Regions from separate parts of the Homo sapiens genome. Here all the other regions are linked to region 1. Evidence: fine-mapped expression QTL. A gene starts in region 1. Each other region holds a variant in brackets. All regions are shown on one strand. Distances are between the middles of the regions.

The links. PIP is the estimated chance that this variant, and not a neighbour inherited with it, causes the effect.
Region 2: its variant is fine-mapped to the expression of TOP3A in spinal cord (GTEx, PIP above 0.99).
Region 3: its variant is fine-mapped to the expression of TOP3A in whole blood (TOPMed, PIP above 0.99). The same link has a PIP of 0.9 or more in blood mononuclear cells, skeletal muscle and spleen.
Region 4: its variant is fine-mapped to the expression of TOP3A in whole blood (INTERVAL, PIP above 0.99).

What each region holds. Positions count from the first base shown.
Region 1 is chr17:18,311,515-18,319,596 of GRCh38, forward strand. TOP3A (DNA topoisomerase III alpha) reads right to left here and starts at 3,480. Exons shown (of 19, transcript NM_004618.5): 1 at 3,085-3,480. The coding sequence starts at 3,264. It overlaps SMCR8 (SMCR8-C9orf72 complex subunit), which reads left to right and starts at 3,779. Exons shown (of 2, transcript NM_144775.3): 1 at 3,779-6,635. The coding sequence starts at 4,276. It also overlaps the pseudogene RPL7AP65 and the pseudogene RPL21P121. RefSeq lists enhancers at 2,529-3,052, 3,000-3,089, 3,100-3,449, 3,577-4,100, 3,790-3,839 and a silencer at 3,600-3,649.
Region 2 is chr17:18,379,565-18,387,665 of GRCh38, forward strand. It overlaps EVPLL (envoplakin like), which reads left to right. Exons shown (of 11, transcript NM_001145127.2): 2 at 1,338-1,436; 3 at 1,803-1,957; 4 at 2,039-2,166; 5 at 2,949-3,074; 6 at 3,262-3,300; 7 at 3,461-3,621; 8 at 3,707-3,814; 9 at 3,928-4,023. The coding sequence starts at 1,374. Among named protein-coding and RNA genes, the nearest start is that of EVPLL, 5.8 kb to the left of the region's middle. RefSeq lists enhancers at 515-1,016, 2,960-3,531, 3,532-4,102 and a silencer at 3,614-3,723. The variant G/T (reference allele first, on the strand shown) is at 4,960.
Region 3 is chr17:18,286,271-18,294,371 of GRCh38, forward strand. TOP3A (DNA topoisomerase III alpha) reads right to left here. Exons shown (of 19, transcript NM_004618.5): 11 at 6,375-6,582; 12 at 4,572-4,757; 13 at 4,287-4,416. Among named protein-coding and RNA genes, the nearest start is that of TOP3A, 25 kb to the right of the region's middle. The variant C/T (reference allele first, on the strand shown) is at 4,778.
Region 4 is chr17:18,189,822-18,197,922 of GRCh38, forward strand. It overlaps ALKBH5 (alkB homolog 5, RNA demethylase), which reads left to right. Exons shown (of 4, transcript NM_017758.4): 2 at 5,134-5,214. Among named protein-coding and RNA genes, the nearest start is that of ALKBH5, 10 kb to the left of the region's middle. The variant A/T (reference allele first, on the strand shown) is at 3,744.

The DNA.
Region 1 (8,082 bases):
AACTCACGACCTCAGGTGGTCTGCCCGCTTGAGCCTCCCCAACTGCTGGGATTACAGGCATGAGCCGCTGCGCTCAGCCCAAGTATTAATATTTATTGAAAGTTTCCTGCATTCCAGACACCATATTAGGCGTTAGGACATAGCAATTAACAAAATATAATCACTGTCCTTTGGAGTTTAGAGTCCAAGGAGAGGCAGTGACAAAAATCAAATAAATGATCGCACATCCCATTATTTAACTGTAACTAGTAGATGCCTTTCAAGTAGAATAGAGTGCTATGACAGCATGTCAGTAAGGGTCTCTGACCTAGTGTGGGGGAACAGGTGGTGAGGGAAGGATTCCTTGAAGATGAGACATTTCAGCAGCCTCTCTCCTCTAGCCGCCCCAGATGCCAAAAGGAAAGATGGCCAAGGGGAAGAAGTGGCCCTGGCCCCTGTTGTCATGGAGCAGCAGTAGGCCAAAAAGGTGGTAAATCCCATTTGAGAAAAGCCCTAATAATTTTGGCATTGGATATCTAGCCTAAGGGCCTCACCCACTTTGTCAAATAGTCCCGCTATAAATGGCTGCTGCGGCAGAGCCGCTGTACTCTATAAGTGGCTGATGTGCCACCTGGGATTGACCAGTTCACCCAGGCCTCAGACTACCAAACTTAAGCTACTCAATTGCTTAAGCTGGCCCACAGTACAGACAAGAGACAGAGCAAGGGATGAGATCGAAACCGTTGGCCCAGGCTGAGAAGAAAGCTTCCAGCAAAGGGGATGTCGCTACTAAGAGACCACCTACACTTCGAGCAGGGGTTGACACCGTCACCAACTTGGTAGAGAGCATGAAGGGTCAGCTGGTGGTGGATCCCATTGAGCTGGTTGTCTTCCTGCCTGTGCTGTGTCCTAAGATGGGGATTCTCTACTGCACCGTCAAGACTGTGGTGTCAAATTCCACAGGAAGACCTGCACCACTGTCACCTTCACAAAGGTTAACTTTCTGGTAGACAAAGGAGCTCTGGCTAAGCTGGTGGGACAAATTACAACGACATATGAGATCTGCTGTCACTGGGGAGGCAATGCCCTGGGTCCAAAATCTGTAGCTTGCATTACCAACCTAGAAAAGGCAAAGGCTAAAGAATTTGCCACTAAACTGGGTTAAGTACACACTGTTGTGTTTTCTGTACATAAAAATAAAAATTCTCTTTCCAAGAAAAGTCTTTCCTTTTGGCTGGAACTGCCATCTTGGAGTAATTTGCCAAAATGACGAACACAAAGGAAAAGAGGACGAGGCATCTGATGTATGTTCTCCTGGCCTTATAGAAAACATGGAGTTCGAGCTGGGCACGGTGGCTCACGCCTGTAACCCTAACACTTTGGGAGGCTAAGGCGGGTGGCTCACCTGAAGTCAGGAGTTCAAGACCATCCTGGCCAACACAGTGAAACTACTAAAAATACAAAAAATTAGCTGGGCATGGTGACAGGCACCTGTAATCCCAGCTACTAGGGAGGCTGAGGCAGGAGAATCGCTTGAACCCGGGAGGCGGAGGTTGCAGTGAGCTGAGATCACACCATTGCACTCCAGGCTGGGCAACAAGAGCAAAGCTCCATCTCAAAACAAACAAACAAAACAAAACAAAAATATGGAGTTTCTCTGGCCACAGACACCAGAATCTACAATGAAGGTGATATTGAGGACTTCGTGAGAATGCATACTGTTCAAAAGGGAATGACCCACAAATGTTACATGGCAGAACTGGAAAAGTCTATGTTACCCAGCATGCTGTTGGCACTGCTGCGAACAAGGGCTAGATTCTTGCCCAAAGAATTAATGTTTCTATTGAGCATATTAAGCACTCTAAGAACCAAGATCTTTCCTGAAATGTGTGAAGGAAAATGATCAAAAAAGAAGCAAGTCAAAGAGAAAGGGTTCACCTGAAGTGCCAGCCTGTTCCATTGAGGGAAGTACACTTTGTGAGAACCAATGGAAAAGAGCCTGAGCCGCTGGAACCTATTCCCTATGGATTCATGGTATGATAGGGTAAAAATAGATAAATACAAGACCTCTGGATTGCTTAAAAAAAAAAAAAAAAAAGGGAGAGAGAGAGAATGAATTCAGCAGAGCCTTGAAGGATAAGAAGTTAGGCGTAGGAGAACCATTTTTCAATGTCTACTTCATTGTCTAGAAGTAGACAAACCTTGGGGCTGGTCACCAGGACTTCTAGCACTGGAAACAGGTAAAGCTGTCAGCCAGCATTCACACAACCCTGGCTCCACTCCCACTATCCTTGATCTGGAAACAGGTCTTAGGACCCTGGGAACTAAAGAAAAATGAGCAGGGAACTTCCACCCATGCTCTTAGAAAAGTTCTCCAGAAAACCATTTCAGGATCTACTTTTGTTATCTGAGATATTTTCCTGGACAGCTCTTTATGTCTCCCGTGGCACCTCCTTTATGAAACTTTTTCTTATCCTCCCTTGCGTTTGTGCCTCCCGTGTGTGTAGAACACATTCTTACCACTTACCTCTCTCAGAATCAGTTCATTCGGGTAGGAACAGGGCTGACTTCAAATCTAATCCCCAAACCTTACCGTGTTGCTGTAAGTGTGCACTGTGAGGCTGGAAAGTCACAAGGGCTGTAGAATGCAGTGGCTGTGGCACAGGATGGGGAGGGCTAGGTTGGCTGGGGAACGATCGGGCAGGGCTTGAATGCCAAGTTAAGGGAATCTGGTCAGTAGTTCCCAAATGAATTTCTGAATCTCTAGGGAAAAACAGTAAAATACACACTTCCCCAGCCTCACACAAGACCCGAAGGGCAGCCAGCGCCCGAGGCGATTCCGAGAATCAGACAAGTTTGGGAACCTGCTAAGCGCAAGCAAAACAAAAGGTTTCCACGCAAATGAGTGAGATGTATCAACTACGTTTTAAAATGCACTCCAGTCCGAGAGCAGACAGGAGGCCACTGCAATAATCCAGACGAGGGGCAGTGAGGCCTGAGAAATGGGAGATAATCGCCTTCATCTCGATTCTTGGCGCCCACCACGCTGTCCCGCTCGGTGGGCCTCCCTTAAGGCACGCAGCTGATCGGAACGCGCTTTCTTACCCGCCTCATGCGACCGTTTGACAGCAGGTCGGCGATCCCCTTGGCCGCGTCGTTTTTTTCGGCCACACAGAGGACTTTCCGCACGCCTCGGAGGGCCATCTCCATGGCGGCGCGGGAAAAGGCACGGTCTTCGGGCCGTCGCAGCCACCGGAGCGCGTAGCGGGCGACAGGAAAGATCATCCTCAGACCTCGCGCCCGGAGCCGCTCCCCGGCTGCCGGCGCATCCTGGGGAAGCCAGAGATGAGGCTCAAATGGCGCCCACCGAAAGGGAACCAGAGCCTCGCTTCGGTCACGTCCCCACCAGCCTGCTGGCCTTTGGAGCTTCAGTCACTGAGCCTTTCCCGTGCCGCAGCCGCCGCCTCAGCACCGAATCCAGTATCTTGGCGTGGAACTTCCGCCCGCCTTCTCCAGCTACTTCCGCCAGGCGCGCGCCCCACAGCGACCTGGAACTACAACTCCCAGACTGTCCCGCGCCCCTCGTCCAAGCACGTTCCCCTCTGCCACCTTCCCGCCGCCCCCGTCTCACTCCGCCCCTCTTTCCCCTCCTTCCCGGCAGTGGTTGGTTAATCGGACTCCTTCTTGCGGGGAGCCGCCAGACACTCCCATCCAAGGCCTCTTTCTCATGACTTTTTAATCTCCTGCTCGGAAGTCTACGAGGACGCTTCCGGGTCACGCGGCGCGGACACCAGGAGTCATGTGATGTCAAGATGGCGGCGCCGCGGTAGCAGGATCCGGGTTGTGGCGTCCTAGGAGCCGCGACGGTTTCTGCCCTCGGGCAGTGAGGGGCAGCAGCGCTTGGCTGACCCCTGCGGCGTCCCGTAGCCTCGCGTTAAGCCTTGTTCAGAGCGGGGGCTTTTGCTGTCGCAGTGGGTTCCGGAGAGTGCAGGTGATTTCGCAGCAGGTTTCTTGTGCTGGCCGCGCTCGCCGGACGAAGAAGAGAAGGGCAGTTGGGCCTGCGGCCTTGGCGTTCATGAGGCCTCAGAGAGCTCCGGAGGAGCTACAACTGTGAGGGGGCTGCTAGAGTTCTTCTCCTCGGGTGTGTGAGAAGCAGCCTAGGACCCCGGGTTCGGGGAGTCGCAAAGAAGGCCGTAAGGGCTTCACTTCCTTCTCCGGAGGCCTGCCTTCTGCGCGTCGATTAACACCGCATTCTTTCCCACTTCCTCTCAATGTTTTCTTCATATATCTGGAAATATGATCAGCGCCCCTGACGTAGTGGCCTTCACCAAAGAGGAAGAGTATGAAGAAGAGCCTTACAATGAGCCGGCCCTGCCTGAGGAGTACTCGGTGCCGCTCTTCCCCTTCGCCAGTCAGGGTGCTAACCCCTGGTCAAAACTGTCCGGGGCCAAGTTTTCGAGGGACTTCATTCTTATTTCCGAGTTCTCTGAGCAGGTGGGACCCCAACCCTTACTGACCATCCCCAATGACACCAAAGTTTTTGGCACTTTTGATCTCAATTACTTCTCCCTGCGTATCATGTCTGTGGATTACCAGGCTTCCTTCGTGGGCCATCCTCCTGGATCTGCCTACCCCAAGCTGAACTTCGTGGAGGACTCCAAGGTGGTGCTGGGAGATTCTAAGGAGGGCGCCTTTGCATACGTGCACCACCTTACCCTATACGACCTGGAGGCCCGTGGCTTCGTGAGGCCGTTTTGCATGGCTTATATCTCTGCAGACCAGCATAAAATCATGCAGCAGTTCCAGGAGCTTTCAGCCGAATTTTCCAGAGCTTCTGAGTGCTTGAAGACTGGCAACAGGAAGGCATTTGCTGGGGAACTTGAAAAAAAGCTGAAAGACTTGGATTACACCAGGACAGTGCTACACACAGAAACGGAGATCCAGAAGAAAGCCAACGACAAAGGCTTTTACTCATCTCAGGCAATTGAGAAAGCCAATGAACTGGCCAGTGTGGAGAAGTCCATCATTGAACATCAAGACCTGCTGAAGCAGATCCGCTCATACCCTCATCGGAAGTTGAAGGGGCATGATTTGTGTCCTGGTGAGATGGAGCACATCCAGGATCAGGCCAGCCAGGCATCCACTACCTCTAACCCTGATGAGTCTGCCGACACAGACCTTTACACCTGCAGACCAGCCTACACCCCAAAACTTATCAAAGCAAAGTCCACCAAGTGTTTTGACAAGAAGTTGAAGACCTTGGAGGAGCTCTGTGACACTGAATATTTCACCCAGACCCTGGCTCAGCTCAGCCACATTGAACACATGTTCAGAGGAGACCTGTGTTACCTCCTGACCAGTCAGATTGATAGAGCACTTCTAAAACAACAGCATATAACAAACTTTCTCTTTGAAGACTTTGTGGAGGTCGATGACAGGATGGTGGAGAAACAAGAAAGCATACCCTCTAAGCCCAGTCAAGACAGGCCGCCTTCCAGTTCTCTAGAAGAATGCCCAATTCCTAAAGTGTTAATTAGTGTTGGTTCTTACAAGTCCAGTGTGGAGTCTGTGTTGATCAAGATGGAGCAGGAACTGGGAGATGAGGAGTACAAGGAAGTGGAAGTGACTGAGTTGAGCAGTTTCGACCCCCAGGAAAACTTGGACTACCTGGATATGGATATGAAAGGGAGTATCAGCAGTGGTGAAAGTATTGAAGTTTTGGGCACGGAGAAATCCACCTCCGTGCTTTCTAAATCTGACAGCCAGGCAAGCCTCACAGTACCATTGAGCCCCCAGGTGGTCCGGAGCAAAGCAGTCAGCCACAGGACCATCAGCGAGGACAGTATTGAAGTCCTCAGTACCTGCCCCTCTGAGGCCCTCATCCCTGATGACTTTAAGGCCAGCTACCCAAGTGCCATTAATGAAGAAGAATCATATCCAGATGGCAATGAAGGAGCCATCCGCTTCCAGGCAAGCATCAGTCCTCCAGAACTGGGTGAGACAGAGGAAGGCAGCATAGAAAACACCCCATCACAAATAGACTCCTCCTGCTGTATTGGGAAGGAGAGCGATGGTCAGTTGGTGCTGCCCTCCACTCCAGCCCACACACACTCTGACGAGGATGGGGTGGTGAGCAGCCCCCCACAGCGCCACAGGCAGAAGGACCAGGGGTTCCGTGTAGACTTTTCAGTGGAAAATGCCAACCCTTCTTCCCGAGACAACAGTTGTGAAGGGTTTCCCGCTTATGAGCTGGACCCGAGCCACCTGCTGGCTAGCCGGGACATCAGTAAGACCAGCCTGGACAACTACTCAGACACCACCAGCTACGTGAGCAGTGTAGCGTCCACCAGCTCAGACAGGATCCCCTCTGCTTATCCTGCTGGCCTGTCTTCCGATAGGCATAAAAAGAGGGCTGGCCAGAACGCCTTAAAATTCATCCGCCAGTACCCCTTTGCCCACCCAGCCATCTACTCCCTGCTCAGTGGGAGGACACTTGTGGTCCTGGGGGAAGATGAGGCCATAGTCAGGAAACTCGTGACTGCACTGGCTATCTTTGTCCCCAGCTATGGCTGCTACGCTAAGCCCGTGAAACATTGGGCCTCCTCCCCTTTGCACATTATGGATTTTCAGAAGTGGAAGCTTATTGGCTTGCAGAGGTAACTGGTTCCAGGTGGTGGGGAAGGGCCTTGGCCAGATAGGGATGAGGTATATTGGTGTGGTGGAGCCAGAATCAGGAAGCCTGGCTTCTAGACAGGGCCCAGTTCCTACCACTGTGTTACTTTTGGCAAGTCATCCCCCTCTCTGGTTTCTATTTCCTTGTCTGTCATGTGAGGGGGTTGCAGTTCCTAGGTGGTTGCCAATCCCCATCTGTCCCCGAGCTGTGTCAGCATTATTAGGGAAAGTTTTTATTTTTATTTTTATTTTTTTGCAACGAAGTCTCGCTCTTGTACCCCAGGCTGGAGTGCAATGGCGCGATCTTGGCTCACTGCAATCTCCGCCTCCCGGGTTCAAGCAATTCTCTTGCCTCACTGTCCTGAGTAGCTGGGATTACAGGCGCCTGCCACCACACCCGGCTAACTTTTCTATTTTTAGTAGAGACAGGGTTTCACCATGTTGGCCAGGCTGGTCTGGAACTCCTGACCTTAGGTGGTCTGCCCACCTCAGCCTCCCAAAGTGCTGGGATTACAGGTGTGAGCCACCGTGCCTGGCCGGAAAGTTTTTAAAATCATGGATTCCTGAGTCACAAGCCCTCGAGGTTCTGATTCGGTTGGTGTGAGGTAAGACATGGAATTTATCTGTCGCCATTGCCAGCCCGACTGCAGGGAGCATCTCTCTATAAAAGCAAAAGGCCCATCAGAAGGGACAGATGACTCCGGGGGAAAGGGTTAGGCTGCTGTCCCTGTAAGTGCTCTTTCAACCTTCAGAGCACGTGCAGATGTTGGGTGCTGGGAGCATCTGCCTCCAGCATCCTACACAGGCATGAGGTGCAGCGGGCAGGTGTGGGGAGCCCTGCACCCTGGAGGGTCCCCTGCGGGGCCAAACGGGAATGGGATGGGCTACAGCTCACCCAAAGAATTCCTGGGGGAGGTGAGCAGTAGACGCCACCTGAGGGTATGATAAGATGAAACTGTTGTGGGCTGTGGCAGTTAGCGGGAGCAGTGGGTGGTCTGGGTCAAGTCCTGGTGTGCCACCACTCGCTGTCTGGATTCGGACCAACCATCTCATTCAGTCACCCAATCATGTTGAACACCTCTGAAGGGCTCCCGGGGCCCACCTGAGAGCCATCGGAAGGGTCCACGTTTAGTGCATGTCCAAAAAAACACAGCACAGTGCAGTGCTTGGCCCTGAGAAGCACTCAGAGGGTGGAACCGGCACCGACACAGGCAGGCAGACTGGGGCCTACCTGAGGCCCAGCTTTAAAAATCACGAGCAGGAGAGATGTCTTCGGTGGTTGTGACCTTCCTATCCTCGGAGGTGTTGCGCTGCAGAGGCTCTGCACTCTGAGCACCACGGCCCAGAAGTGTGCCTCCTCACTCAGGCCCACTGCTCACATGATGGACTCTCTTTCAGGACTCTCACCTCCGAACACCAGTCTTGCTGGCC
Region 2 (8,101 bases), 68 kb after region 1:
TCCCCAGCAGTGTGCTCCTGGCCTGGGGCAGCTCAGTCCTCAGGGCCCTGTTGGCTCTGGATCACCTCACGTGCGATCCACTCGTTTGACATGAACTTACTGAGCACTTACTGCATGCCAGGACTGTTCTAGGCACTGGAGATGTCGCTGTAGACAGAACCAACAGGCCCCTGCCTTCAAGGCACTAGCCCTCTAGTGGGATAAAAACTAACACGTGCTGGGTGCCGACTCTGCACCAGGCCTGCACTGGATGTTTCAGACAGATAAATTCAATTAATGCTCACAATAGCCCTAAGGCATAGATATTTTTATTAAAATCCTGCTTTACGAGTGAGGAACCTCAGGCACAGAGAGGTTGAGTAACTTGCCCAAGGTCACACAGCATTAATGATGGAGAAAGATGAAACCAGGCTGTCTTGGCCACAGAGTTCTTCCAGACTGCTGTGCCTTCACCAGCACTGTCCCGTTGCCTGGGGGGGCCCATCCTTTGACCCAGTTCAAGGCTTCCCCTGCCCCAGGATAATGATCCCCCATAAGGCACTGTGCTCATAAGGCTTGGACCAATCTGCCCTCTTTTAGGTCTGCTTGGCCTTGTGACCTCCACAGAGTGACTGCATGCACACAGCAGGTGCTCTATGGAGGCTGCAGGGCGAATGCACAGAAAAAGCCCTGGGGTGGAAGCAAGGTTTCCCCTCCGTCCCTGACCACGTAACTCAGAGCAAGTTAGGGCACAATCTGGGCTTTGAACCCTCAACTCTGGAGAATGTTAGGGTGCCCAGCAGTCTCTTGCGCCTGCCCCCGCTCCCCGACTCTGACAGTGTGAGGCTCCTCTAGACGGCTGCTGAAGCCAGCACTCTGGCAAAGCTCCCTGGGGTGGAGGAGGTATAGGGGAACACAGGGCTGGAGTGGGAGGAGGTGGGGGTGGGGGGCATGCTGCTGCCTCCCTGCCCCAGCCAGCCCAACTGCCCCTCCCAGGGCCCAGCCAGGCTGGCTCAGGTACTACCGGCTCACAGGGGGGAAGTGGCAGGCAGCTGGGTGGGGTCGGGAACTCACTGCCAGCACAGCTGGCTGAGGCTGGGACACCGAGGCCGCCTGACACCCAGCACCACACAGACCTGAGACCCTCACCTTTTGACCCCTCATGTGGCGGGGCAGTGCTAACACCCCCAACCAGGTCTAGCTCACAGAGCCTCCTGCAGAGAGAGACCCCAAAGTCAGGGCAGTGTGCTAGGCTGTGGGGGCGGGATGGGGTGGAGAGAGGGCAGGGGACGCCACCTGGATGGGGCACAGAGGGGCCTCTTCCACCGAGCTGCCCACTGTCCCCTCCACCCACCAAGAATGCCACCCAGGAGCTGACCCTGCTCATCTCCCACATGCAAGCCAGCGCCGACCAGGTGGAGCGGGACATCCTGGAGACGCAGAAGAGGCTGCAGCAGGTGAGAACCCGGCAGCAGTTGGCAGGGTGTGGGCAGGCTGGGTGGCATGGGAGGCCCATCATCAGGCCTGGCACTCCCTGAGTGCCCCCTGGTGATGGTGAAGATGGGACAGATGACATTTGTCCTGCACCGCCTGTCCCCTAACACACGGTGGGAGAGAGGGCTCAACTTCCTTCTTTGCTGGGCTCCCCTGTGTCTTTGTCACCTGCCTCATGGACGCCCTGGGCCTGACCCTGTGCCTGGCGTGGGCCTCGAGGTTGGCCAGCATAGCTGGGGTCCCAAAGGTGGGGCTCAGGCCCACAATGATGGGCAGCAGGGGTGTGGGGGCTCTGGACCCTGGCAAGTCTGCCCATCCCCTGCCCACAGGACCGGCTGAACAGTGAGCAGAGCCAGGCCCTGCAGCACCAGCAGGAGACGGGCAGCAGCCTGAAGGAGGCCGAGGTGCTGCTCAAGGACCTCTTCCTGGACGTGGACAAGGCCCGGCGGCTCAAGCACCCGCAGGCTGAGGAGACTGAGAAGGAGTGAGTGGGGCTGCGGCAGGGCTGGGGGTCCCTGGGGAAGACCCAGGCCCAGCCCTGACCTGCTGGCCACCTTCTTGACAGCATCGAGCAGCTGCACGAGCGGGTGACCCAGGAGTGTGCGGAGTACTGTGCCCTGTACGAGAAGATGGTGCTGCCGCCCCGACGTGGGATCCAAGGTCGACTGGGCACACGTGCTGGAGCAGAAACAGGTCAGGAGCTCAAAGTCACACCCCAGTGTGATCAGAGGGTGATACGGAACTGCATTTAACCCAGGGCCTGACTGTAGGCTTGAACAGTCAGTGTATAGTGGTGTCTCAGGGGTCTGGGCAGGGAGACAGCAGAGGAGACAGTGCAGTCAGGGAAGACTTCCTGTAGGAGGAGGCACATGAAGAGACCTCAGAGGGGTGAGAGGGCTCGGTTGGGTCAGGGTGAAGTAGTGAGGAGAGGACAATTCCAGAAAGAAGGAGCAAAGGCACCTGCCAGGAGGAAGCCTAGGATTCGATGGGAAGTGGGGATTTCTGGCCAGGTGGGCAGAGCCAGGACATGGGGCATTCTGATCCCTGGTTGAGGAGTTGTGCTTTGATGCCACACAGAAGGGGTGTCATCATGACAATAGAGGAACAGTGGGGAAGGGCCCGGGTGCAGCAGGGCGTTCTGAGGGCCCTAGAGCTTGGCTGGAGGTGTCCAGGCAGGAAGCACTGAGGCTGGGTCACAGACAAGGCAGGATGGAGCTGGAGACTTCTGAGGCTGAGCCCAGCGTCTGGGAACCAGTGGGACTCAGGGGCCACTGCAGAATGGCCTCTGCAGTGGCCACCCTGCAGAGCAGAATGGCTCACCCTGGGTGAGCTGCAGGGCGTGCACCCGGGCTGCTCTCAGGCTCGTCCACGCTCTGCCCAAATGACCAAGTCCACTTCTCCGGGTGGGAGACGTGTGGGGTTCTCTGGCTCTCCACCCTGGTCCTGTGGTGACTGAGCCGCCGGCTCTCCTGCAGAAGCTGGTCTGCGCAGGCCAGTATGGGCCGGGCATGGCGGAGCTGGAGGAACAGATCGCGGAGCTCAACATCGTGCAGAAGGAGATCAACGACCAAGGAGAGCAGCTGCGGAGCCTGGTGGGGCCGGTGGGTGAGCCGGGAAGATGTTACATCCGGGGCCAGCCCCAGCCCCTGTTTTTCCAGTCAGAGCCGGAGCTAGATCGGCTGGGCCCTGGGGATAGGGGTGGGTGGGGTATGGCTTGCCCAGATCTTAGGGGGCCGTCTCCCTGTGCCCCACCTCTCACGGGCTTGTTTCTCCCCTTGGTCAAGGCAGGATGCCGCCACCATCCGGAGCCAATACCGAGACCTACTGGTGAGCAGGAGGGAGGGTCGGGCAGGGTGGCTGCAGGTGGGCCTGGGTGGCCGCCCGGACCCTGCCCGGGGCCAGTGTTCCTGAGCGCCGCCCAATGGCGCCTTTTGCCCCCCACTTTCTCTCTCCCCACCCTGCTGCTGGCGGCGGGTCCTGAGCACAGAGGGCGGCGTCGTGGCGCGGGCAGAGCCTGGGCAGCCTGTACACGCACTGCAGGGCTGCACGTGGCAGCTGAGCGCCCTGGCGGAGCAGCAGCGCCGCATCCTGCAGCAGGACTGGAGCGACCTCATGGCCGACCCTGCGGGCGTGCGGCGGGAATACGAGGTCGGCTGGCAGAGGTTGGGGCCAGGCGGGGGCGACCAGGGCCATCCTGGTCCTCACCGCCGCTCCCCACCCGACTCGCCCCCAGCACTTCAAGCAGCACGAGCTGCTGAGCCAGGAGCAGAGCGTAAACCAGCTGGAGGAGGACGGCAAGCGCATGGTGGAGCTGCGGCACCCCGCGGTGGGGCCCATCCAGGTGCGCTGGGGGCAGGGCGAGAGTGAGAAGGGACGTGGTGGGCGGGGAAGGGGGGGGTGGACGTGGGTGCGGGGGCGGGGCGTGGTCCGAGGGCTCCGTGCTGCGGTACCCAGGCCCACCAGGAGGCCCTGAAGATGGAGTGGCAGAACTTCCTGAACCTGTGCATCTGCCAGGAGACCCAGCTCCAGCACGTGGAGGACTACAGCCGGGTGAGCCCTCGGGCAGCGGCAGGGCGGCAGGGCGGCAGGGCGGGAGGTCCCACAGCACACCGGCCCACAGGAGAGGCACTGCACCTCTCAACTAGACAGAGCTGGCAAGTCGCGGTGGCTCACACCTGTAATCCCAGCACTTTGGGAGGCTGAGGCTGGCCGATCACTTGAGGTCAGGAGTTCGAGATCAGCCTGGCCAACATGGTGAAACCCTGTCTCTACTAAAAATACCAAAATTAGCTAGAGGTGGTGGCACGCGCCTGTAATCCCAGCTACTCAGGAGGCTGAGGCAGGAGAATCGCTTGAACCCAGGAGGCGGAGGTTGCAGTGGGCCGAGAATGGTCCACTGCATTCTAGCCTGGGTGACAAAGAGGGACTCCACCTAAAAAATAAAATAAAATAGAGCTGTGTGGTTGCCACTCGGTCCCAGAGGGAAGGAAAGGCATGGGCACATTCTCAACAGGGTGAAGCCGTTCCCAGGGGGGTGAAAATTCGTTCTTAATGGCAGAAAAGTAACTGTTTTTATGCATGAAGTACAGATCCACATACAGCACCTAAGCTGTATACAGCATATCTGTGGTATAAATATTTCATGGGGGCCAGGTGTGGTGGCTCACACCTGTAATTCCAGCACTTTGGGAGGCCGAGCCAGGAGAATTGCTTGACCCCAGTAGTTCCAGACCAGCCTGGGCAACATAGGGAGATCTTGTTTCTATAAAAAATAAAAATAAAAACTAGCCAGGCATGGTGGCTCGTGCCTATTGCTTGAGCCCAGGAGTTTGAGGCTGCAGTGAGCCATGATCACACCACTGCACTCCCGCCTGGGTGACAGACTGTGACTCTGTCTTAAAAAAAAAAAAATCCTGGTGCAATACCTCATGCCTGCAATCCTACCACTTTGGGAGGCCGAGGCGGGTGGATCACTTGAGCCCAGGA[G/T]TTGGAGACCAGCCTGGGCAACATGACGAAATCCTGTCTCTACAAAAAATATACAAAAATTATCTGGATGTAGTGGTGCATGCCTGTAGTCAGAGCTACTTGGGAGGCTGAGGTGAGAGGATCACTTGAGCCCGGGAAGTCGAGGCTGCAGTGAGCTGTGATCACTCCACTGCACTCTAGCCTGGGTGACAGAGCAAGACCCTGTCTGTTAAAACAAAACAGAATAGAGCTGGGGCTTCCTTTTCCAGTGGGTGTGGTGCAGGGGGCACTGGGCCTCCCTTGGACCACCCGGTTCTCTGGGGCCCAGCCTCAGCTCTCTGTGGATGGATTGGGTGGTGCTCCTCCCACTCACTGGCTTCAGCTCGTCTGCAGAGGAGGCAGCAGCGAAAGATGGGTAGAAAGAGATGGGGGAGAGACAGAGGAGGCTGAGAGGGAGAGGAGGATGGAGAGAGCAGAGAGAGAGAAACAGAGATGGGGAAAGGGGCAAGAGATGACAAGAGAGACAGAGAAGCCAGAGAGGCAGAGGGGGAGAAAGGGAGAGAGGGAGAGAGAGACAGAGCAGGAGGTCGGGGCACTCTGGGTCCCAGTTTCCGGTGCAGTTGTAGGTCACCATCACCTAACTGCAGGTGCAATAAAGCCCTCGTGCCTGCTGCTCGCAGCCCCTGAGAGTCCTTCCTCCTGGAGAATAAAACCTTTGAGGGCTGCCCTTCCTCACTGGATTTTGGTTGTTTCTAATGAACTGAGTCATCCTGTCTATCACCTTCCTGGGCTCATGGCTCCACTGAACGCTGCCCCCTCGGTTCGGGAGGACCAGTGGTGCCCCCATCTCACCAGGCTCCCAAGGAAGCTTGTGACCTTGGCTTGGGCCCAAAGTAGCCGGGTACCCACTGGGGCTCTGCTTCTCCCTTCACTAAGAGAAGAAAGAGACCAAAGAATGGTCTGCACAGAGGGCACCTGTGCAAACACCCAGGGAACCAGGGAGTTGAGCCGTCTTCATTTCCTAACAGATACATTCCCTTCTGTGCCTCCTTAATGAGGGCATGAAGCACAGTATGCGTGTGTCCAGCTGTGTGCAAAGGCATGTGTGTGTGCATGTGTGTTGTGGGAGCATGCAGTAGGCAGCAAGGAAAGGGCAGCTCCTGCTCAAAGCTGCAAGTCTCTCTGAAGGAAAGATCAAGATTCCCTGGACCACAGCAGGACAGTGTTTTCATTTGCATCCATTTTTATTAGCATTTAAACCTGTATCTTGAGTAGCATATAAACTTTAAGTTGGTTAACTGTTCTTACAAGCATTTACACAGTAAGATAAACATATGATAATATACACTGAAATTATGCACCCTGCACCCCGCCGTCCCCACCCTGGCCAGAACTATCTTGCAAACCTACACCCAGCAAAAGATCCCATAGTGCACTTTGGGAGGTATAGACAGGAAGCCTGAGTCTCCATCGCTCATTCCATCTTTTCACCAGCTGTGGGCTACCAGGCTGCATTGGTTTGCTAGGGCTTCCTTAAAGTACCACAGACTGGGCAGCTTCAGCAACAGAATCTCACTGTCTCACAGTCCTGGAGGCTGTAGGTCCAAGATCAAGGTGTCGGCAGGGAAAGTCCCTTTCCAGGGCGGTGCGGGAAGGCTCTGTTCCAGGTCTCTCTCCTGGCGTGTAGGTGGCCTTCCCGGTGTCTCTTCACCTGGTCTTCCCTCTATGCATGTCTCTGTGTCCAAATTTGCCCTTTTATAAGGACATCAGTCATATTGAATTGGGCACCCCCTACTGATCTCATTTTTCATTTTAACTTATTTCCATAAGACGCTGTCTCCAAATAAGATCACATTCTCAGGCACTGGGGCTAAGGACATCAACATAGGAATTTCAGGGGACAAATTCAACCCACCACATAGGCCCTCCCTGAGGCCACCTCTGCGTCATCTTTGTCTACAGGCAAGTTGGCATCTAAAAAGTGTCTGCCCAAGACATGCGTCTGGCCCATGGTACAGCCAGTCCACACGGCCAATGGTGAAATCCGGGTGGCATTGTTTCCTCACCGCCATGCCTCATGCAAGCAGCTGCCTTCTTATAACGGTGGACACAAATCCCAGCACTGGTGCAGTTGCTTGCCGGCTGTGGGTGAAGTAGCCCCATGTCAGTGTGCTGCAAAGATGCAGCTTAGAATGTTACGGCTTGTGTGAAAGATACGCAGATTTCTATTCCTTCCAATCTGTGGTTTCAAGTTCTGCTTGAACCCAAGGGGCTCTATAGGGTGCTTCTGGAACAGCCGGGGTGTTAGGGGTGCTGAAAAGGTGTTAGGGTGCCTAGGCTCAACCCCAGCTTCAATCACACAAATAATCTTGTTGACATGATTTTTGGTTAATTTTTTTTTTTTTTTTTTGAGACAGAGTCTTGCTCTGTCGCCCAGGCTGGAGTGCAGTGGCCTGATCTCTGCTCACTGCAAGCTCCACCTCCTGGGTTCATGCCATTCTCCTGCCTCAGCCTCCCAAGTAGCTGGGACTACAGGTGCCCGCCACCACGCATGGCTAATTTTTTTTTTTGTATTTTTAGTAGAGACGGGCTTTCACCATGTTAGCCAGGATGGTCTCAATCTCCTGACCTCATGATCTGCCCGCCTCGGCCTCCCAAAGTGCTGGGATTACAGGTGTGAGCCACCGCGCCTGGCCTGGTCAGTTTTTTAATTGATCTTTTGTATAATTTTTTTGTTTAAGAAAGGGATCCTTTGGCAGAAAGAAAATCTGAAACTCTAAATACTGTCCATTTTATCCATATATTGGTCATACCCCCAAAATATATCCTGATTCCAGCCATTTGTCATGACCGCTTTAATCTGAGCTCCCTTCATTTTTCACCTGGATTACTGTACCAGCCTCCCCAATGGCCTCCCTGGTGCCACCTGGCCCCTCCCCAGGGCTCAGCAAGATTTTTCTGCAAAGGACCTGGTAGTAAGCATCTTGGGCTTCGTGGACCCTGTGGTCTTTGTTGCACCTACTCAGCAGTTACTCAGCTTTCCACTGCAGCCCCAAAGCAGCCCCAGACAAGAAGTGAACACAGGGGAGGAACTGTGGCTCCAATAAACCTTTATTCACAGTAGGAGGGGGGCTTCATCTGGATTGTGGGCCATAGTTTGCCC
Region 3 (8,101 bases), 25 kb before region 1:
AAGCGGGCAGATCACGAGGTCAGGAGATCAAGACCATCCTGGCTAACACGGTGAAACCCCGTCTCTACTAAAAATACAAAAAAAAAAAAAAAAAAATTAGCCGGGTGTGGTGGCGGGCACCTGTAGTCCCAGCTACTCAGGAGGCTGACACAGAAGAATGGCATGAACCTGGGAGGCGGAGCCTGCAGTGAGCGGAGATCGAGCCACTGCATTCCAGCCTGGGCAACAGAGCGAGACTCCACCTCAACAATAACAACAAAAAAACAACCAAAAAAACCAGTGAAATAGCAGTTCAGACCTACTGGCAAAATCAAAAAGAGAGATAATACTAAGTGTTAGTAAGGATGTGGATAAACTGGAATCCTAGTGCCTTGCTGGTGGAAATGAAAAACGGTACAGCCACTTCAGAAAAGTTTGGTGGTTCCTAAAAATGTTAAATGTAGAGTTACCAAGTAAACCAGCAATCCCACTCCTAAGTCTACCCAAGAGAAATGAAAACACATATCCACACAAAACCTTGTACAAAACTGTTCACAGCAGGATTATTTATAATAGCCAAAGAGTAGAAACAACTCAAGTGTCCATCAACTGCAACCTCTGCCTTCCGGGTTCAAGTGATTCTCTTGCCTCAGCCTCCCGAGTAGCTGGGATTACAGGCGCCTGCCACCAAGCCCAGCTAATTTTTTCATTTTTAGTAGAGAAAGTGTTTCACCATGTTGGTGAAGCTGGTCTCGAACTCCTGACCTCAAGTGATTGGCCCACCTTGGCCTCCCAAAGTGCTGGGATTACAGGTGTGAGCCACTGTGCCTGGCTCTTTATAGGAAATAACTAAAGTAGGCAAATCTGGCCAGGTGCAGTGGCTCACTCCTGTAATCCCAACACTTTGGGAGGTTGAGGTAGGAGGACAGTTTGAGGGTGCAAGTTCAAGACCAGACTAGGCAACATAGCAAGACCCTGTCCCTACATAAAACAAAAAAGTCTGGCTGGGCATGGTGGCTCAGGCCTATAATCCCAGCACTTTGGGAGACCGAGGCGGGTGGATCATTTGAGGTCAGGAATTCGAGACCAGCTTAGCTAACAGTGAAACCCCATCTCTACTAAAAATACAAAAATTAGCCAGTGATGCGCACCTGTAGTCCCAGCTACTCAGGAGGCTGAGGCAGGAGAATCTCTTGAACCTGGGAGGCGGAGGTTGCAGTGAGCTGAAATCGTGCCACTACACTCCAGCCTGGGTGACAGAGTAAGACTCTGTCTCAAACAAAACAAAACAAACAAACAAAAAACCCAACAAAAAAATTAGCTGGGTATGGCAACACATGCCTGTAGTCCCAGCTACTTGGGAAGCTGAGGTGGAAGGATCCCTTGAAACCCAGGGTTCATGGCTGTGACCTAGCCTGGGTGACAGAGTAAGATGCTATCTCTCCAAAACAAATTTTTTTAGGGGCCGGGCATGGTGGCTAACACCTGTAATCCTAACACTTTGGGAGGCCTAGGTGGGCGGATCATGAGGTCAGGAGTTTGAGACCAGCCAACCTGGCCAACATGGTGAAACCCTGTCTCTACTAAAAATAACAAAAATTAGCTGGGTGTGGTGGTGCGTGCCTGTAAGCCTAGCTACTCGGGAGGCTGAGACAGGAGAATCGCTTGAACCTGGGTGGCGGAAGTTGCAGTGAGCAGAGATTGTGCCACTCCACTCCAGCCTGCAGCAACAAGAGCAAAACTCCATCTCAAACAAACAACAAAAAAAACAAAAAAACTGACTGTGGTGATAGCTGCACAACTTTGTGAATATGCTAAAAAATGTACATTATACATTTGAAGGAGATAAACTGTATGGTATATAAATAAAGCTGTTAATAATTATATATATATATATATAAATTTTTTTTTTTTTTTTTTTTAGATGGAGTCTCTCTCTGTCACCAAGGCTGAAGTGCAGTGGCACAATCTTGGCTCACTGCAACCTCCACCTCCCGGGTTCAAGCAATTCTCCTGCCTCAGCCTCCTAAGTAGCTGGGATTACAGGCGTCAGCCATAACACCTAGCAATTTTTTGTATTTTTAGTAGAGATGGAGTTTCACCATGTTGTCCAGGCTGGTCTTGAACTCCTGACCCCCTACCTTGGTCTCCCAAAGTGCTGGGATTATAGGTGTGAGACACAATGCCCAGCCTGTTAATAATCTTTTAAAAATATTATTATTATTTTTTTGTAAGTGTACCTCTATGTGGTTCCTTTACTTAGAAATCCTGGAAGACTCCCTGCTGACCATGTACCACCATCTAAGCCCTTCAACTGGGCAAGCCAAGGCCCTGCAAAGTCAGGCTTGGATCATCTTTCCAGGCTCACCTTCTATGGCCACCCCCCTCCAATCCAGCTACAGCAGGCTTCTGCTTTCCTGCTCCTGTGCCCTTCCTCAGGCCTACCCTGCACTGGGCTGCCCTTCGCTGATCCAGAAGTCTTACTATGAGGTTTTGGTCCAGCTCAAATGCCAGTCCACCCATCACATTTTCTTCCCTGCCTACTCCCTGCAGAACTATTACATTGTATTCAATGTGTTGGTTTGGTTCTTCTGTTAGATTGAGAACTTAAAAAATGAGGTCTTATTCCTCCTTGTGTCCCTGGTGCTTAGTCCAAGCTCTCACTCTTGTGGGCCTCACACTTTGTACCTCAGTCTCTGCCTTCCGGGCTCAAGTGATCCTCCCACCTCAGCCTCCCTACCTATAGGCATGCACCTAATTTTTTGTAGAAATGTTTTTTTTGAGATGGAGTCTCACTCTGTCACCCAGGCTGGAGTGCAGTGCTGCGATCCTGGCTCACTGCATCCTCCACCTCCCGGGTTCATGCAATTCTCCTGCCTCAGCCTCCCAAGTAGCTGGGATTACAGGCATGTGCCACCACGCCTAGCTAATTTTTGTATTTTTTTAGTAGTGATGGGGTTTTGCCATGTTGGCCAGGCTGGTCTCGAACTCCTGACCTTAGGTGATCCACCCGCCTTGGCCTCCCAAAGTACTAAGATTACAGGCATGAGTCACCGTGCCCAGCCAGATCTGTTTTGTTGTTGTTGTTGTTGTTTGTTTGTTTGTTTTAAGACAGAGTTTTGCTGTTGTTGCCCAGGCTGGAGTACAATGGCACAATCTCAGCTACAGGTGCCCACCGCCATGCCTGGCTAATTTTTGTATTTTTAGTAGAGACAGAGTTTCACCATGTTGGTCAGGTTGGTGGTCTTAAACTCCCTACCTCAGGTGATCCACCCAGCTCAGCCTCCTGAAGTGTTGGGATTACAGGCGTGAGCCACTGCGCCCAGCAAGATGGGGTTTTACCGTGTTGCCCAAGCTGGTCTTGAATTCCTGGGCTCAAGTGATTCACCCATCTTGGCCTCCCAAAATGCTGGGATTACAGGTGTGAGCCACCACACCCAGCCTTCATACATTTTTATCAAATAAATCATGACGGGTGAACCTCTACTAATTTTACCTAAACCTGCAGGGTTTCTGGATGTCCTAGTGATGGTCAAGGACTTCACGTTGAAGCACTGCTTCCCAAGTCATAGGCCTAAGAAACTCCCTTTGTGGATGACGCAGCTGCTTATGTAACACATGCCCAGGGAGCTCTGCTTCCCCTCCACTGTGCTGCAGGTATTCCTGGACTAGGTTTGCCAGAGAAAGCCCTTGAGAGCCTTGACAAAAACGAATGGAGGGGACAGCAGATTAGTTACAAGGCCCTACCTGCAAAGCTTGAGCCATGGGACTTATCAGCAGGGTCCTGGCACATACATGAGGCCAGCGTGAGCAGCCTGAGTGAGCAGTGTGGGTTCAGACCTGCAGAGACAGCTGCCACCCTCACCCAATGCTCCACATGGGAAGGAGGCTCAGGGCTCTATCTGACACTTCAAAATGAAGATAGATTTTATGATAACTGTCCCAAGTTTTAATTGTTGGTTCCTTACATGCTGTTCTTATTCGAAAGAACAACAAATCCTCATGTGGCCAATGGGTGCTCCCAGTTGGGCCCTCAAAGCCATGGGAAAAGTCTCTGTTACTATGTGGACAGCACAGTGCATGGTTTAAGAGCACTGACTGTGGAGTTATTCAGACCAGGTTTTAATAATACACACTTTGTGAACTTAGGTAAGTTCTTAACCTCTCTGAGCCTTATTTCAACTATAAAATGGGATAAAGATATAGCAGCTGCATTAGAGAATGGTTTGAAGACTAGAGGAAACCTGTACCTGGTACACTGTAAGCCTTAGCTCAAGAGATGCGAGTTACCCAGAGGAGCCACTGACCAATGCCATGCTTCTCCATGAGGGCAATGAGGTCGGCCTCGGTGAGCAGCTTGGGTGGGCTGGTCTCCCCGTCCACCATCTCCACGGTGCTGGGCTGAAAGTGGGATCCTTGCTCATAGACAGGGAGGATCTACAGGGAGCGGCAGGTGCAACAGTCAGATGATTCCATCAGCACACTCAGGCAAAAAATAACCTCATTTCAAGGAACATGATCCTGCTCCACTAGAGAACTCAGGGCTCACAACACAACTGTCCTCCCTCTCACTGGGGACCACTCTTTATTACCTTGTCACTCCAGTGATCATATGGATACACATCCAGATAGTTTCGGGCCAGAATCATGAGGCCATGGGCCACAAAGCGTTCCTGAGCGATGTCGATCTCCACTGTGGTCTCCTGCCCCTGAGCATCCTGGGAGCAGCAAGCCAGGAAATGGCGAACAATAAACTCGTACAGTCGCTGTTCATCTCCCTAGGAAGAAAAGAGGAGTA[C/T]GAAACTCCCCCTAGAATATCACCTCTCAAGGACAGGAGCATCACTGGTAGCCTTAGCCTAATGTCCTGCACAGAAGAGGCCACACTGCTCCTCAGGCCCTGCACTAACATGGAGTGCCAGGCAAACAAGTCCTGGGGAGAGGATGGGTTTAGGTTGACACATCTCACAACTCAAATCTGGCAAAGATAAGCAAAGGAGTCATCTTCCCTTCCAGACTGGGAAGTGGTTCTTTGATGTAAACGCAATCTAAGCAGAAAACAAGATGAAAGCGTAAGAAGTTAGCAAGACACTCCTCAAATACAAGAGACAGCAACATTGCACCTGGTGGCCTTAGCCCAACTTCATGCACACATTTAAGCAGTAATTTTCAGGGTAATTTTCAATTAGGTAATCAATGATTTAGTGAGCCTCAGTCTATCAAAAGCCCATGAGACATTTATACACATATCCAATAATTCCCCTTCTAAGGATTTCTTCAAAGGAAATAACTGGAGAACCACAAAAATATTTATGTCTACAAATGTTAACTATAGTATCAAAAACACACAAAAAACAGATTTGGCAAAATAAATTATGGCACATCTTTGTAATTGTTAAATATCATGCTTAATAGGCAATTTTACCCCCTTATAAACTTTTGTATTTCTTAATTTGTCTAAAATGAACATGTAATTTTTTTTTTTCCGAGACAGAGTCTCACTCTGTCGCCAGGCTGGAGTGCAGTGGTGCAATCTCGGCTTATTGCAACCTCCGCCTCCTGGGTTCAAGCGATTCTCCTGCCTCAGCCTCCTGAGAGTTGGGACTACAGGCACATGCCACCCCGTCCAACTAATTTTTCTATTTCTAGTAGAGATGGGGTTTCACCATGTTGGCCAAGATGGTCTCAATTTCCTGACCTCGTGATCTACCCGCCTTGTCCTCCCACAGTGTTGGGATTACAAGCATAAGCCACCGCGTCCGGCCATATTTTTAAAATCAGAAAGAATGTATTTTATTAAAAGAAGGAGGAGAAGAACAAAAGACTAAGATTTCCCCAGCTTTGTGAGAAGCCTACAGATGTAAACAAGCATTTCCCCAACTTTGTGAGAAGCCTACAGATGTAAACAAGCCTAATGGCTCCTGTGCCTGCAGAGCCTGCCCCTGGCTGAGGAAATGACTGAGACAGACAAGCAGAGCTGTGTGGGAAACTGCAGTGACAGGGGGTGGCACGACTGGGGTGGCAGCAAAGTTTCAGGAGGCAACCAAAACTGAGCCAGCCTTGGGAGGATGGATAGAATTCTCTAGTTCCAGGGACTGGGAAGGCCACAAGGCTCACAGTGGAGGTGGGGGTCTGCACAGGGGTTGCCTATGAAGGACTAGCAGGGAAGCAGCAGGAGCTGATGGAGAGTGGGATGTGGAGCTGGATTAAGACGGGGGCCCACCACGGGGAGGGATGAGGCGGTCTTTATCAAAGCCAGGCAGAGGATTGTGAAATGAGAGAGATCTCAAAATCACTTGTTTTTACAATCACAGCCCACAGAGTAAATTCAAACCTTACTACTGACCCCCAGCACTTCCCTATGGGTTCCAGCAGGCAGTACATTCAGGGAAACCAACCTGTAAGTTGTTGGTGTATTTGGTGGGGTGAATGGGAGGGTGAGCTTGGTCAGACTTGTTCCCATTGCGTGGGGTGGGACCACCCCGCTCTAGAATGCTCTGGGCAAAGGCCCCCCAGCGTGGATCGGGGGTCTGCTGTTCCACCAACACCGTCAGGTTTAAGTCTCTGGGAAAAATGTTTGTTTCTGTTCGGGGATAGCTGATGTACCTAAAACCAAGGCAAACAAACAGAAAAAGAAATTGCTAGGCTCTCTGATTGGTCTATAAACAACTGAAAGCACACACTAACACCTGCAAACACTCATCTGATGTAGCCAACTCAACTGAAGGCAGCCTACATTACCTGCTTCAGAAAAGTTCTGAGATGAGATGCACCCCCTCATGGGATGAAAAGCAGCTGGCTCTCCTGCTAGCACACTCAAAGAAGCCAAAAGGGGCAGCACAGCACAGGAAAAAGGCCAGCAGCCTCATAGCCTGGGGCTTGTCACTGGCCACTCTGAGGGTCAGTCTGACAGACCAGCCCTGATGCAGCACATGAGACTCACTGACCCTGACAAGTTCCACCAGCGTGTGCTTCAAGACTTTTCTTAGAGTACACAAAGAACAATGCTGTCCGATAAACTGTAATGTGGACTCTATTTGTTTTTTCTTTTTCATTTTTGAGATAGTCTTGCTGTGGCACCCAGGCTGGAGTGTAGCAGCGCAAGCTTGGCTCACTGTGGCCTCCGTCTCCCAAGCTAAAGTGATCCTCCTGCCTCAGCCTCCTGAATAGCTGGGACTACAAGTGTGTGGCACCATGCCTGGCTAATTTTTTTTTTTTTTTGTAGAGACAGGGTTTTGTCATGTTGCTCAGGTCGGTCTTGAACTCCTGAGCTCAAGTGATCCTCCTGCCTAGGCCTCCCAAAGTGCTCAGATTTCAGGTGTGACCCAACATACCCAGTCTCTATTTGTAATTTTTGTTTCCCCCCAAGAGACGGAGTCTTGCTGTGTCACCCAGGCTGGAGTGCAGTGGCGTGATCTCAGCTCAGTACAACCTCTGCCTCCCGGGTTCAAGCAATTCTCTTGCCTCAGCCTCCTAAGTAGCTGGGATTACAGGTGCCTGCCACCACACCTGGCTAATTTTTGTATTTTTAGTAGAGATGGGGTTTCACCATGTTGGCCAGGCTGGTCTCGAACTCCTGACCTCATGATCCACCCACCTCGGCCTCCCAAAGTGCTAGGATTACAGGCGTGAGCCACCACGCCCAGCATAATTTAAAATTTTCAATTAGTCACTTAAGTTACTGAGATTACATTCTATTTCATAGAAGTCTTCAAAACCCAATGTATATTTTACATCTATAGCGCATCCCAATTTGGACAACTTGAATTTCAACTGCTCAATAGCTGCAGGCTGGACAGCACAGTTAGAGGACCTCAGTGCTGGGGTGTATATGACTGGGGCGGGGAGGAGTTTCACAGGCAAACAACTTTTAAAGGTGCCACCCACTGTCTGCCACTTGCCAGGGCCACAGGGAGATGGCTGAGGAGTCAAAAGTAAGATCTGAATCTACTCTATGGGTTTTTACATAGAAACACCTTTTCTGTATCAGAAAAGAGAAGTCAAAGTCAAAATCCTACCTCAGAGCTTGGGTGCTATCTAGACAATCAGTTTTTCCCCATAAACTCTTATTTCTTTATTTCTTTCTTTTTCCTTTTTTTTTTGAGATGGAGTCTCACTCACTCAC
Region 4 (8,101 bases), 120 kb before region 1:
CTTCTGTGTTTAGTACTGTCTATCTTGGTGTGTACAGAATTGGGACTTGGCAGGTTGACCTTCCCTCTGGATTCAGAAAGCCCCAGGACTTCTTATAAAGTTAGGCCATGGGTCGTCTTGGAGGCTTGGGTCTGGTAAATAATTGAGCCTGAGCTCACAATCCTGCCCCTGGGTCCAGGTGGCTGGTCTGCTGCCCCCAAAAGCCTGACCTTCTTGGTCCTGTGGGTCTGTCAGTAAGGCAGGTAGCCATAGCTGGAGAGAGACAGTCACCAGGCTGGGATCTTGGACAGTCCCTCCATCTCTGGTTCATCCTGGCCTAGGCAGGGCATGGAGTAGATGGAAAATGGTGGCCATCTTGGAAATGTGTCATAACAACTCAGTTTCCAAGACCGTCCCCTAGAGGAGAGATGTACAGTCCTGCATAGTTTCTTTAAAGAATTTTTCAGGGCCAGGTGCGGTGGCTCATGCCTGTAATCCCAGCACTTTGGGAGGCCAGGGCGGGTGGATCACCTGAGGTCAGGAATTCAAGACAAGAATGGCCAAGATGGTGAAAGCCCGTCTCTACTAAAAATACAAAAATTAGCCGGGCGTGGTGGCAGGCACCTGTAATCCCAGCTACTCGGGAGGCTGAGGCAGAGAATTGCTTGAACCCAGGAGCTAGAGGTTGCAGTGAGCCAAGATTGCGCCACTGCATTCCAGCCTAGGCAACAGAGTGGGACTCTGTTTCCGAAAAAAAAAAAAAAAAAAAAAATTTCAGACACCTCATTTAATTTGCACCTAATCTTCTGAGGAGGGGCTTGCTGTGATCTTTGTTTTGCAGAGGCAGAAACAGGTTCTAAGTGGTAGAATAGTTCAGCTCAACACACATTTCATTTAGTGTCCACTGTGCAGGGATGAGTAAGGCCTTTGAAGAGCTTTGTCTTGAAGGGAAGACACAATTTCCACAAGGCCAGATGGAATAGCAAAGAGGCATGAGAGGGTGTGGTTGAGCAATGTAGGGGGAACCCAGCCTGGGCAGTCAGGGAAAGGCCCCCAAAAGAGGAGATAGACATGTCAGCTCCTTCGAGAGTCACTCTGAGGTATAGGACTAGTGGGTGACATTTGCAACATATACTGGTCAGTGCCTCTGGGGCTGGGGCTGGGGGCTCAGCCCAGAGAGGGAGCAGGCAAGCCAGATGGCATAAGGTTATTTCCTCTTCTCCTTTCCCTGTGAAAACAAAAAAGCAGGAGGTCCTGGAACTTTTCATGCCAGCAGTAGGGCTGGACCCAAGGGCATATTAAGTTGCAAGCTGGCCGACTGAGACTTTCAGACAATTTATTTTGTAGCAAGTAGGTTCCTTAATAGTAAATAATACCCTGTGGTCTCTGCTCGACATTTTGTGAGATTGGCCAGGAGAGCTTCCCTTAATCAGGACTTTGAGCTCATGTTGCCAGAGCAGCCGGATATTCTGAGGAAAGGGTCAGTGGGCTGTGTCATAGCTGCTAGGAAGTTCTAGAAGACCAGTACTAATAAGCCTTCCAGGTTGGGTCAGTGCCAAAGTCATTTTTGTGGGCCTGTGCAGCCCTACCTCCATACTAGTTCTTCCAAGGCCTGGGCTCCGTGGCAGGAACCTGACATGGCTTATTGTTTGTTCTAGAGCCCTTTGGGGGATGGGGTCAGGGAGCATGCGGGCAGTCAAGCTTTGACAAACATCTGGATTTGCTCCAGAACTGCATTAAGAAAAGTGGTTCCTTGTTGGAGATGGGAAGTCAGGGCCCTTGGTTATGCATATAGCCAAGTCAAACAGATTGATAACACTTGTCAATGGCAGGGAAGGTTGCCTGTAGCCAGCACTGCAGATTCAGGACTTAGAAACGTGCCTCTGGGGCCGAGCATGGTGGCTCACACTTGTAATCCCAGCACTTTGGGAGGCCGAGGTGGGTGGATCACGTGTGATCAGGAGATCGAGACCAGCCTGGCCAACATGGGGAAACAGTCTTCACTAAACATACAAAAATTAGCCTGTAGTCCCAGTTACTTGGGGGTCTGAGGCAGGAGAATTGCTTGAACCTGGGACGTGGAGGTTACAGTGAGCCAAGATCATGCCACTGCACTCCAGCCTGGGCAACAGAGTGAGACTCTGTCTTTAAAAAAAAAAAAAAGTGCCTTTGAGACCTTTGACAGCTCTTTGGGAAAGTATTGTGTGTCTATATGGGACAGTCTTGCAGTCTAGACCCCCATTCCCCCAGTGTGGAATGATAAAAGCATGGGATGAGAACTAGAGTTCCTAGCTCTGGAAATGGGGCCCAGGCGGCCCCCACTACTGGCAGATCCCTGCAGGGGGAGCCCAGACCATGTCTCTTTGGCAGATGCTGAATCCAGGGCTCTGGCTTGCCCCAGGATAGTCCAGGGCCCTCTGACTTTTGTCAGAGTGCTTAGTAAAGATTGTAGGGTGTCAGGCACCCTGCATTATCTGACTTAATTCTCGCAATACCCCTGCAGGTAGGCCTCTCACCACCCCTTTCCAGGAGTGTCAACCAAGTAGTCATATAATGCTGTTTTTCTGCCTGGAAGGGAGGAGGCCCCGTTTTTAAAATCTTGTAATCTTAAAAACTTTAATCTTGTAATCTTTAAAACTGTCCCCATTTTTAAAATCTTGTAATATTAGTAGCAGCAAAAGAATAGCTAAATTATAAAGCATAACAAAATGAATACCCAAGAACCTACTGTTCTCCTTATTACAGATGAAGAAACTGTACAGGTTTTTAGGTTCAGCATGTGATTTAACAAAGGTCACAAAGCTAGTAGGAGACAAAGCTCACATTTGAACCCAGGTCTCTTCAACTCACTAACTCCTGTGTGGTACTTCTCACTGTGGGCTGATGGGTATTAATAGGTATTATGAGAGAAGGTTCTTTGGTAAGTGCTCAAAGTCAGTGGGTTCTTTTGCTGTAGTAATTCTCATGTGCTTTAAATATATTAATGCTTTTTGAAACTCTAATCAGTATTTTACAAATTGATTTCACTGTAGACATTCGTCCACTGTCTTTTTCTTTTTTTTTTTTTTTTTTTTTTTGAGACGGAGTCTCACTCTGTCACCCAGGCTGGAGTGCAGTGGCACTATCTCGGCTCACGGCAACCTCCACCTCCCAGGTTCAGCGATTCTCCTGCCTCAGCCTCTGCGATAGCTGGAATTACAGGCACCTGCCATCATGCCTGGCTTATTTTTGTATTTTTGTAGAGACGGGGTTTCACCATGTCGGCCAGACTGGTTACGAACTCCTAACCTCAGGCAACATGCCCACCTTGGCCTCCCAAAGTGCTGGGTGGGATTACAGGCGTGAGCCACCGTGCCTAGCCTGTCTACTGTCTCTTATGGGACTGGTGTTCATGGAGAAAATTTTGAAAAATTCTTGTCTAGGAGCAGCTTGAGGGAGAAGGTGGATCTATAAAATAAAGGTTTGGGCCGGGCGCGGTGGCTCACACCTGTAATCCCAGCACTTTGGGAGGCCGAGGCTGGCGGATCACGAGGTCAGGAGTTCAAGACCATCCTGACCAACATAGTGAAACCCCATCTCTACTGAAAATAACAAAAATTAGACAGGCGTGGTGGGGTGCGCCTGTAGTCCCAGCTACTTGGGAGGCTGAGGCAGGAGAATCGCTTGAACCCGGTAGGCAGAGGTTGCAGTGAGCCGAGATTGTGCCACTGCACTCCAACCTGGGTGACAGAGTGAGACTGTCTCAAAAAAAAAAAAAATTAAAT[A/T]AAATAAAGGTTTGTTCTATCCCCAGCATGAGCTCAAATCAGATTTCCAAATCAGAGGTGCTTCCTTAAGGCTGAGCCTGAAGCAGTCTGGCTTTTTATCTCTTGTTGGCTCTTGCATCCAGTTATTAGAGCTGAGGTTTGGCCAGCCTGGCCATCTTGAGGGGTCCTTCCCAGGCCTGCAGTGTTTTTAATAGTTAAGTTTGTGTCTGTACAACTAGCCTTTGAGAAGGGAGCTGATCAGCAGCCATGAGAGAAGGGTTTGTGGTACAGGGCCAGGTAGGGAAACTAAGCCATACTTGTCCTACTAGGCTTGTGGCTGAGTTTCTGGGTGTGTAGAACTGCTGCAGCTCAGTAGAGTAACTTGGAGTGGGAGTATCTTGTGGCTGCCATGCTTCCAGTGATAGCATGTGAGGGGTATAGGAAGCTCAGAGCTTGCTTCCAGAGTTTCAAATTGGAATGACGCTAGCTGAGAAGAGGACAGTCATCTACCCACATTAGTTGGTCTCTGAGCGGTTTTAAAAGTCATGTAACTTGTTGAAAATAAACAGATATCTGAGTATGATGGAAATCCTTTTTTTTTGGGCGGGGGGCAGGGGGTGGGGGTCAGTGGTGGGGACAGAGTCTCGCTCTGTTGCCCAGGTGCAGTGGGCGTGATCTTGGCTCACTGCAACTTCTGCCTCCTAGGTTCAAGCGATTCTCCTGCCTCAGCCTCCCAAGTAGCTGGGATTACAGGCGCCCACCACCATGCCTGGCTAATTTTTGTATTTTTAGTAGAGATGGGGTTTCGCCATGTTGGCCAGGCTGGTCTCGAACTCCTGATTTCAGGTGATCCGCCCACCTCGGCCTCCCAAAGTGCTAGGATTACAGGCATGAGCCATCACGCCCAGCCGGAAATTCTTAAAATATTCAAACACAACTGTCTTCAAAATTTTGGATCCCCCCAAATGGAGACTTCATGTAGATATTCTATTTTGGAATGAGGCAGTCCTAGCTCTCCCTGGTGACTCAGTGCTATCAGTGGCTGCCTTGGCTTTCTCTACCTGCTAAATGGAGGGAGAATGAGGAGGAGCTACAGTGTACTCTCTGGAGTACCCTTTTAAAAAAGGGTTCCTGGCCTGTTCAGGGAGAGTCTTGCTTCCAGCCTCTGCCTTAAGTGGCCAAGGGGTCTCCTTTGTGTCATACCAGGTTTTTCCTTGAGTATTACAGTCTCTTGGCAAAAGCATCCTGGAACTTAATATGATATTCCCTTCCATGTAGATCCTTGAAACTCTCAAGTAATGGGTAGAGAGCAGCCGTAAGACCTAGGCCATGTTCCTGTCCTGTTATATCCCCCAGGAACTTTGGTTGTCTGTCTACTCTTCATGGTCACATGTTCTGTGTTTCTTTTCAGTGGATATGCTGCTGATGAAATCACTCACTGCATACGGCCTCAGGACATCAAGGAGCGCCGAGCAGTCATCATCCTCAGGAAGTAAGTGCCTTGATGTCTGACCTTCTGCCTCACCTGCAGGCCTGTCTGGAGATGTAGCTCTGGGTCCACTTAGAACTCAGCTCCTATGTATCAGTGGCATGGCAGAGTGGAGAGCAGAACTGTTAAGTTCTCTTTTTATTTGAATCCTGTGAGGATAAAGTTGTTTTGTTGTTTTATCAGAAAATTAAGTACTCTATTTAGGGAGTTTAGGACTGAGCAAAAGCATATACGCCCAATATTTGTGGGTATAATCTTGAGACAAGATTTGGGCAACATTCTTCCAAACCTCACCCCACCCCTTAGCCTCTATTCCTCACCTCCTTCGTTCTTATTTGTTACACGTACTCTTGGTGATTATTTTTAGACTGTGCCTTTAGCAGCCTGCTTTAAAAATGCCTGGGTTTTCACTGCTGGAAGGAACAGGGAGTGAAGAGAGGAGACAAGGGTGGGAGGTTAGGATGTAGTATTCGGCAGAATCATGGCTTGTGGCTCTTCTCTGGGGAGGGAATCAGGGATGTGCTACTTAACATCAACAAACCTGGCTTCACCAGCATTTATTTCTTTCACGGGGTGAGTGGAAGAAGCCATAGCCTCACAGACATTGGATCAAGACAAGCCTTGCCCCACTGTCCACCCATCTTGCTCAGGCTGGAATGCAGTGGTGCCATCATAGCTCACTGCATCCTCAAAGTCCTGGACTCAAGCTCTCTTCCTGCTTCAGCCTCCCCAGTAGCTGGGAATAGAGGCAAGTGCCACCATACCTGGTTCACGCCTACCTTTTGAATAGAGTCCCAGAGAAGATAGGTGATTGCCCAGAGTCATAGAAGTCAGTGAGCAGAGCAAAACAAGCACGTAAACTTAGGCTTGACCCATAAAACTTGCTGTCTGTCGTCTTCTTCCTTCCTTCCTTTTATTAAACTTTATTTTTTAGAATAGTTTTAGATTTACAGACAATTGTGATAGTACAGAGTTCTCATGTACTCTGCATCCCATTTCTCCTATTTGTTAATTTTTTATTGGTATGACTAAAGTCCATACTTTATTTAGATTTCCTTAGGTTTTTCCTAATGTCCTTTTTCTGTCCCAAGATCATCCTACGTTACATTTAGTTGACATATCAACTCAGACTCCTCTTAGACTCCTCTTGGCTGTAACAGTTTCTCAGACTTTGCCTTATTCTTTTTTTTTTTTTTTTGAGACAGGGTCTCACTCTGTCGCCTAGGCTGGAATAGGCGGGAATGCAGTGGCACCATCTCGGCTCACTGCAACCTCTGCGTCCCAGGTTCAAGTGATTTCGTGTCTCAGCCTCCTGAGTAGCTGGGACTATAGGCGTGTGCCACAACACCCAGCTAACTTTATTTTTTCGTACAGATGGGGTTTCCCCCATGTTGGCCAAGCTGGTCTCTAACTTCCAACCTCAAGTGGTTCACCTGCCTTGGCCTCCCAAAGTGCTGGGATTACAGGTGTGAGCCACCATGCCCAGCCTGCCTTATTCTTGATGATATTGACTGGTTAGGTATTGTATAGAAAATCTCTCAATTAGAATTTGTCTGATGTTTTTATGGTAAAGTGTATGCCATTTTTACTACATAACCAAGAATATATACTATCAATGTAACTTAACACTATTGATATTGATCATCTGGCCAATGCACTGTCAGGTTTTCCACTGTAAAATTACTGTTTTTCCTTGTCCATACTGTACCCTTAGGAAGGAAGTCACCATGCATGCCCACAGTTAAAGAGTGTGGGAGTTAGCACCATCTCCTTGAGGGGGAGCATGCAGGTGAATTACTTAGAATTCTTCTGCAGGGGGGATTGGTCTACTCTCCTTCATTTATTCAATCATTTATTTATATAAGTATATTTTTTATGTAAGTATGGACTCCTAGGAATTTATTTTATGCTCAAATTCTTCCAGCTTTGGTCATTGGGAATTTTTTCTGGTGCATCAACTTTAGTCAGTAAACAATAACTTTGGCATCCTGGTCCTTTGGGCCCATAACTCCAGAATATTGTAGTGGTGAAGTCTCTTTGGTATGGCTTTGCCACTTTGCCAAGTCAAAACTTTTAGTCTGTTTTAACTATAGTAGATGGGTATGATCCATATCTGTGGGACAGTCCTATGGTACAGGCAGAGCAGTGAACACGTGGGAGCTCCAGAAACTTGGGTCAACTTGGTGGGGTTGGCAGCCTCTCTTTTCTAGCCTAAGACTGTTCCCAGAATTTGTCAGAGGAAGGGAAGAGTTTTTATCTGCCTTGTACTTTATTTTTCTGTGATAACCAGCATAGGCAAGAACTCGGAAACAATGGAGTCCAGAGTGTAGCACTCTTCCAGCCTCTCCTCCAGTCATTTCTTCTCAGGCTGTACCTGGTACCTCCAACTGCAGCCAGGGATGGGTGGCCTGCCCAGGCCAGGAACCTGGAGAGGAACTTCTAATGTTACATAGAACCAGAGCAGTAACTTCCCAAGAGTTCCTCTCATCTTCCCATAATAGCTTATTTTGGGGAAATCTTAGTTGGATGTGCAGGTGGTAGTGGCCATAGCTGGAGTGTCAGTCTTCCAGCTGCTACTCTTTTATTGAATGGTGACTCCCATACCTGGCCGCCCAGTCCAACTGAGTCAGATGCTCCTCAGCACAGCTAGGAGTCTGCACCGTTAATCAGCTCCCTGGGAAGCTTTTCAGCCAGCTAGGTCCCTGCCAGTGGCCTGACCTTGGGAATGGCTGTTACTGGGTGACTGAAGCTCTTCTACCTTCTGACTTCAGTGGGCCCAGGAACCATTCACAGACTGGGCTGGAGTGCAGAAGCACAGAGCTGTGGTGTAAGGGGACTGGAGAAGAGTGGGAGGATGTCCCAGCTTCCCCAGGTAGCTGAGCTGGGGAAG